Linked DNA regions of Homo sapiens. The protein of the gene in region 1 purifies or fractionates together with the protein of each later gene. This does not show direct contact. Each region holds a gene or a part of one and is shown on either strand. Other genes may lie near its edges.

Region 1 (4,176 bases):
AAATTTCCATCCAGGAAAGTTAGGTCAATTTCTACTTCTACTTCTATGACTATGTGAACTGCCCCTTTTCCTGAAACTGTATTAGGAAAGTTTAGGAAAACCTTTATTACCAGGATACCATATAGTATTTTGTCACTCTTAAAAACAGAACAAAAAACCCAAAAATTGTTTTAATCGAAATTTCTTAGGTGACTAGTGAGGGTGAACATTTTTATTTTCTTTATTTTTATTTATTTATTTTATTTTATTTTATTTTTTGAGATGGGGTCTTGCTCTGTTGCCAGGCTGGAGTGCAGTGGCGTGGTCTCGGCTCACTGCAACCTCTGCCTCCTGGGTTCAAGCGATTCTCCTGCCTCAGCCTCCCAAGTAGCTGGGATTACAGACACGCACCACCATGCCCAGCTAATTTTTGTATTTTTAGTAGAGACAGGGTTTCACCATGTTGGCCAGGCTGGTCTTGAACTTCTGACCTCGTGATCCGCCCACCTCGGCCTCCCAAAGTGTTGGGATTACAGGCCTGAGCCACTGTTTATTTTCATTGCATTTTAGCAGACAACACTCTGTTCTTTTTATACTAGTTTACTTTATCCCATCCATTTATATATACATATATATACACATATATGTGTGTTGTTTTTGTTTTGTTTTGTTTTGTTTTTTTGAGATGGAGTCTCGCTCTGTCGCCCAGGCTGGAGTGCAGTGGTGTGATCTTGGCTCACTGCAACCTCTGCCTCCTGGGTTCAAGCAATTCTCCTGCCTCAGCTTCCCCGAGTAGCTGGGACTACAGGTGTGCGCCACCACGCCCGGCTAATTTTTTTTTTTTTTTTTTTTTTTTTTTTTTTTTGATATTTTTAGCAGAGATGAGGTTTCCCCACGTTGGCCAGGCTGGTCTCGAACTCTTGACCTCAGGTTATCTGCCTGCCTTGGCCTCCCAAAGTGTTGGGATTACAGGCGTGAGCCACCGCACCCAGCCCATTTATATTTTTTAACTGGTCTTTTGAGGCTGTGCGTGTATGTGAGCAGATTAAATAAAAGAGTTTCCTCAGATGGCCCTATCAAGAAGTAAGCACTACCAAGAAGTAAGCACTACAGATCTGAATCAAAGTCTACCTTGCTCATTTTGGCTGGATCAGAGAAGGATTCTTGGGTTCTGTATACCGTGCTGAAACATGCAAGGCAGGTTGTGTTTTTAGGTTTTTATTAAATGAGGAAGGCAAGTTGCAGTGGCTCACGCCTGTGTTCCAGCACTTTGGGGAGGCTGAGACGGGTGGATCACCTGAGGTCAGGAGTTCGAGACTAGCTTGACCGACATGGAGAAATCCTGTCTCTACTAAAAATATAAAATTAGCTGGACGTGGTTGCTCATGCCTGTAATCCCAGCTACTCAAGGCTGAGGCGGGAGAATCTCTTGAAGCCGGGAGACAGAGGTTGCAGTGAGCCGAGGTCACACCATTGCACTACAGCCTGTGCAACAAGAGCAAAACTCCATCTCAAAAAATAATAATAATAATAAATGAGGAAAATACTGTAATATTATTTGATTATGGAGACAAACCTATTTACAATCTGACTGTTCAGATTGAATAGTTGTGACCAAACCTGGAATAACATTAAGAAATGTTCAAAACCTGTTTTAAAAAATTAAGCTGTAGAAAGGCCTGTTGTAATACAAATATCACATTAAACAAGAGTAAAACTCACTGAAAGGTACTTGTGTGATAAGTGTTGAAAAGTTGGGTTTTTGTGGGGTTTTTCTGGGGAGACTGGAGGCAGGGTCACACTCTGTCACCCAGGCTGGAGTGCAGTGGCATGATCTCTGCTCACTGCAACCTCTGCCTCCCAGGCTTACACAATCCTCCCACTTGAGCCTCCCTATTAGTTGGGACTATAGGCACATGCCACCACACTTGGCTAATTTTGATATTTTTTGTAGAGATAGGGTTTCGCCATGTTACCCAGGCTGGTCTCAAACTCATGAGCTTAAGTGATCCATCTGCCTCAGCTTCCCACAGTGCTGGGATTACAAGTGTGAGCCACCACACCTAGCTATTGTTTTTGTTTTTTTGAGACAAGTTCTCACTCTGTCACTTGGGCTGCAGTGGCACAAACACAGCCACTGCAGCCTCAACCTCATGGGCTCAGGCGGTCCTCCCTCAGCCTCTGAAAGTGCTGGGATTGCAAGTGTAAACCATTGTGCCTGGCCTATTATACTTGACATTAAAAAGAAGATTTTTGCCCGGGCATGGTGGGTCACACCTGTAACCTCAGCACTTTTGGAGGCCAAGGGAGAACCACTTGAGGCCAGGAGTTCGAGACCAGCCTGGGCAACATAGTGAGACCCCCATCACTACAAAACAAAATATTAGTCAGGTGTGGTGGCATGCCCTTATGGTTCCAGCTGCTCAGGGGGGCTGAAGTGGAAGGATTGCCTCAGCCTGGGAGGTCAAGGCTGCAGTGACCCGTGTTTGCGCCACTGCACTCCAGCCTGGGTGACAGAGTTAGACCCTGTCTCAAAAAAAAAAAAAAAAAAAAAAGATCCTTAATTGGAGAAATGTCAGGATGTAGAAAGAAAAAGTCGTCAATGAAAATGGAATATTTGAGTAAATGGAGTATTATACTCACTTGGGGAGGTTTTATTTGAGTTGGTTTATTTGAAATTAGAATCAGTGACTTTACCGGTATGAATAACCTTTAGTAATTTTTCAAACTGTGGGACCAGAGGAAATAAGACCTTTCATTGTTTGCCTGCAATAACACCAAAATATCACTGTAGTCACCTGAGTAAGTTTTGTTACAAAACACATTAATCAAAGTTCACTTTCTTTAGGCTAATGTGCCTTTTCTTACAGATGTTCTTTGCATATAGAAAAAAATCATTTACTTTGATTTATATTTCTTTTAACTTGCATTTGATCCCCTTAAGAACACGACCTCGAGATGATATCCTCAGTAGACGTGAAAGATCAAAAGATGCCAGCCCCATCAATAGATGGTCTCCAACCCGAAGAAGAAGTAGATCTCCCATTAGAAGGAGGTCTCGTTCCCCACTCAGACGTAGCAGGTCTCCAAGAAGAAGAAGCAGATCTCCTCGGAGAAGGTAAAGACATTTCATCCTTGTGATTCATTAAACTCTGAATGTTTTTGAACCACCAGTGAGCTCACTTGGTAGGTTTTCTTTTAGACCAGTTTTCTCTGAAAAATCGTAGTTGTGTTCCCATAGTTTCCTTTTACCAGCAATCTCTACACATGGGTTTTCTTTTATATCGTTTCCTTTGAATTTTAAACAAATCATTGCTCATTTAGGATGCAATAAAATTAGTCTTTTAAAAATAGGACTTTTTTCTCTCTTTTATCAATCAATACTAAATGAGCCAGACTTAGGGATTTTTTTTTTTTTTTAACCAGCAAGGTAGATCATGTAGTAGTAAATATATAGCCCAGTTTCTTACATTTTATATTAATTTTGCATATTGATAGTTACTGTAGACTTAGGCAAAGGCCTATTTAATTTGCCATAGAAACCATTTTATCTGAAGCATATGTAGTCAGTAATAGGTTAAAAAGGTGGTTTATAAAGCAGGGAATCATTTTTTAAAATTCATACATACATGAAATATTTTAATATAAAACATAAATGGGTATTTGTTTGCCAATCTTTTAACATTTTTAATTGAAGTAATAAATGAATATAATTTTTAAGAAACAAAGGCTTATATTATAGCCATCTTTACATATCTCTCAGAATTTTTGTATGCTGTATTCCTAGAAATGGAAATGCATGGTCTGAGTGCACTCTGGTCAATGAGGGGTTTTATTTTATTTTATTTTATTTTATTTTTTGACAGTCTCACTCTGTTGCCCACGCTGGAGTGCAATGGCGCGATCTCACTGCAACCTCCACCTCCTGAGTTCAAGCAATTCTGCCTCAGCCTCTCAAGTAGCTGGGACTAGAGGTGCCCATGCCACCATGCCCAGCTTTTTTTTTTTTGTATTTTTCTAAATAGAGATGGAGTTTCACTATGTTGGTCAGGCTGGTCTCGAACTCCTGACCCCAAATGATCCGCTCGTCTTGGCCCACTGCACCCAGCCACAATGAGGGTTTTTAATACTACCGCTTACTCATGTTTCGCTTTTGCCTAATTTCATCACACTTTTTTGTTCTTCTAGAGTCAGTAT
Region 2 (3,837 bases), on another chromosome or scaffold:
GAAATTGTTGCTTCAGAGTCACTACGAGCTGACAGTGAGCCAAGTCGTGTTCTACGAGGCTGAGCCAATAAATCAATCCGAGAGATGTTACGCCTTCCTGTGGGAGGTTTTGATGTAGAACTTGTTGTGGATACTTCAGAAGCAACAGATGCTTTGTCAGCATCAGCAAGTTCACTGTCTGAAGCTTCACCAAGTCGTGCTCTGCGCAAGAGGGAAGTCCTGGTAGGTCGTGGCCTTGGAAGGGTGGTTGATTTACTAGATGAACCAGATACCACCGGAGAAGTCTTAGATTTCGTTACTTTACTTCCTTCCAGTTTGGAATGTACATGCTCATCAGCTGAGGTAAGTGGAGTCCGTCCATGAGGTTTACAAGAGTAAGTTTCTTGATCAGATGACATAATATCAGAGATGGCAGAATGAGGTACACTAGAGGTTTGGTCATCATCTGTTAAGTCTACTGAGGGCTGTCTTATTCTCCCACTGGACTGAACAAATTTACGACCATCTGCTCTTGAACCCACATCTGTGGAACGACTTTTTGTTTTCTTTTCCATTTTTTCCCTAGCACCTGAAGATGATGATTTTGTAACATCTTTGGAAGGAGAACCTGTGGAACACCTATCTTTATAGAGGCTAGTGAAACTCTTTCGCTTTTGGGTTGACTTTCTTTCAGTTTCTCCAGTAACCAGACTGATTGTACTAGCTGTATCTACATCAGATTCTGGTGAAATAGAATTGTCTCTATTATAACTGGGAGTATCTGGTCCTTCATCAGTTTTATTATCTTCACGTAGTTTAGCTTCTAGAAAAGCCATTACTGCTTCTGTGTCTTTTAGAATAAGGGTTGTGTCCATACTAGAATCAGGATCCAAAGACTCACTTCTTTCTCGTATTCTACTTGCAGATGTTAATGCTAAAGAAGAAGGAGTAGAGGAAGTCTGTTTATTTATATGGGGAATAAGTTCTATGGGTATGTTTGGGCTGGGTTTTTCTATAGTGAAGCTCCCTTGTCGCACTAATGACTTGGAGGATTCCTTCTTGTCTCCTCCCTTTGGAGTCTGACTTTTCAGAATTTCCTCAGCTTTTCTTCTCTTGCTCTCACTTTGTGCCACTCTGTCTCCTTTGCTTGTAGAATGTCCTGAATTTTTTTCTGGAGGTTGTGATTCTTGTTTAAAAGTTTCCTCCCTACATTTATCTGTCTGACCTGAAACATTTTTGGAAGACAATTTAGTAGGTGTCCACTGAGCCTCCTCCCTTTGTTCTTGTTGTTGAAGTTTTGCTAATGTTTGCTTTACCAAAGAAGTTTCCTTATCAGTTTCACTTTTCTCTTTTCCAGGAGCAGAGCTGCCTAAGTGAAGTAGGGTTTTATTATCTCCACCAGTTTTGAGAGTCTCTCCATTTACTGCCCTGTTCATTTTACTCAAGGGTCTGTCAGCATCTTGTTTATCTTTCTGGTATACCTGTGTAGGTGTTTCTTTCTCCTGAAGTTCTGTGTCTTGTTTTTCTCCTATCTCTGACCTCTGTGTTACAACCTTTGCTCTGTGGCTCTCAAGAGACTTTTCTTCATTTGGAAGCTGGGGAAGAGTTCGTCTCCTTCTCTCTCCCTGGCTAGCCAAGGAAGTTGCAGAGCCAGTACTTCTCACTGTCATGCCAGACTCACTGATCTCTGTCTCTATGAAATAAAAACCACAAAGAAGGAATTGATTAAGACAAATAAAATAAAAATAAAAGGAGCATCATACAGTTGTCTGTCAGTATCCATGAAGACTGGTTCCAGGCCCCTTATTCCCCCAGGATACCAAATCCCAAGGATGCTTGAGTACCTTATATAAAGTGGTATAATATTTGTATATAACCTACTCACACCCTCCCATATACTTTAAATCATGTCTAGATTACTTATAATACCTAATACAATGTAAAAGCTATGTAAATAGTTGTTATACTGTATTGCTTAGTGAATAAGTACAAAAAAATAAAGACTACACACGTTCAGTGGGGACGCAATCATTTCTTTTTCCCCTCTCAAATATTTTCAATCCTCAGTTGAATTCACAGATGCAAAACCCACTAATACAAAACCTATGGCTAGAGAGGGCCAGCTATATTACATTACATTTTGAGATGTAAGTTAAAAATGACTTAAGTATACAAAACAAACGAGCCAGCATTGTGACGAAGTAGTTTAAGTACAATTTCAAGCTGCACAAATAAGCAATTCCTAGAGAAGTCAGGAAGGCCAATTGTATGAGATGAAAATTAGAGTCATCTGATCATTTTTCTCCTTTCATATATTTAATTTTCTATTTATGAATTGACAAAAATTATATATATTTGTGGTGTATAACATGATGTTTTGATATATGTATACCATTATGGAATGGCTAAGTCAAGCTAATTAATATATCCATTACCTCACGTACTTATCTTTTTTGTGGTGAGAACATTTAAGATCTACTTTCAGCTATTTCAAATACCCAAGGCATTGTTATTAACTATAGTCATAATGGTATAAAAGGGTCATCTGATCTTAAACCTAAATATATTGCTCTTCTTTCCTCTTAATGTGTTTTATAGAAGGGAAGTTCACTGTGTTCATTCTCACTTTTGTAACTTTCCATCCTTGAGGTTTGCTCAAAAAACCAGAATCTATTGTAGATTTATACAGAGAATGTCAAATAAACATTGTTTATTTTCTATATTTTCAACTACATAGTAGAGAAGAACAACATAACTAGTTTTTAAAAAGTATTATCTACTTGAAAGAATGATAATTTTGGATTTCCTAAGTAAAGTGAAAAATGCAGAACTTTTAACAACATTTTAAAAAAATCTATAGCCGATTAAAAGAATTTTAAAAATTGTAAGTATGTAACAGCAGACTTTTCATAGTTAGGACATAGCAAAATTTTATAAATTGAGGAATTTTTAAATTATAGTCTTCTGGTTATTAATGCCACATATGGAAATACAAAATCCCTTTCTTTTTTTTCAAGTAGAAGCCAATGAGAAAATATATATTTTGATTTTTCCACCTGAGAGAATTTGAGAATATTTAAGGATTTTCCTGACTATTAAAAATGGAATGTATTTCTGAGAAAAGGGAAACATCTTTTCAGGGAAATATAAATTAACATATAAAGCTTCCTAATCTTTTAGGGATAAATGGAGAAAAGATACTAGATATAGCTTCTGTGGGTCTTTTTTTTCCTCTTTACAATCCTAAAAGTTTAGTATTTAAATATCATATCAATACAATGGATGTGATGGAGGAAAATCCATACTGAACTGATAGATTTAACTTTAGTCATTAATCATGTTATATCTTGTTTTGTTTCTTCTTTCATATATCTTATCTCCTTAGTGCTAACTGAAGCATCTAGAATGTAATGGCTACTTTACCCTTTTGTATTTTTCCAGTATTTCTCATACTGCCCCCTCCTCATATACATTCAATATGCTTAACAAAAACGTTTTATTATTTAAGTAGATTTATCAGCTTATGTAAATAAGTTCATTTAAATATGATGACATAGAAATGAGATCATGAAAGCTAAGTGGTCTATTATTTTTTATAACAAGGGTAGAACTTTGCTTTTCACAGATAATACTTAATAATTTTATAACGGATTCTTTGGTAAAGTTATCTAGCCTTCTGTCTGGTTTCTTTGTTTCCTAAACACAGTTTATACGAACCAAATGACTCTGTTCCCTCAAAAGAATTTTTGGTCATACTATCAATAACTTCTAGATTCTAATATAAATAAATGACGTAGCTTTTCTAGTACACTGCTATGTAGCTTCCTCAAATACTTCTAATACTTACAAAATTCTTAA

The links. Proteins that work in one complex are often made in the same cells at the same time.
Region 2: the proteins of PRP4K (region 1) and CEP170 purify together in Homo sapiens (co-immunoprecipitation; one large-scale study listed by IntAct). This does not show direct contact.

Annotation. Positions count from the first base shown.
Region 1 is NC_000006.12:4,034,474-4,038,649, forward strand, and holds part of PRP4K (serine/threonine-protein kinase PRP4 homolog), read left to right. Parts: intron 1-2,923; coding exon 2,924-3,097; intron 3,098-4,176. UniProt on the Homo sapiens protein: Serine/threonine kinase involved in spliceosomal assembly as well as mitosis and signaling regulation. Connects chromatin mediated regulation of transcription and pre-mRNA splicing.
Region 2 is NC_000001.11:243,164,445-243,168,281, forward strand, and holds part of CEP170 (centrosomal protein of 170 kDa), read right to left. Parts: intron 1,673-3,837; coding exon 1-1,672.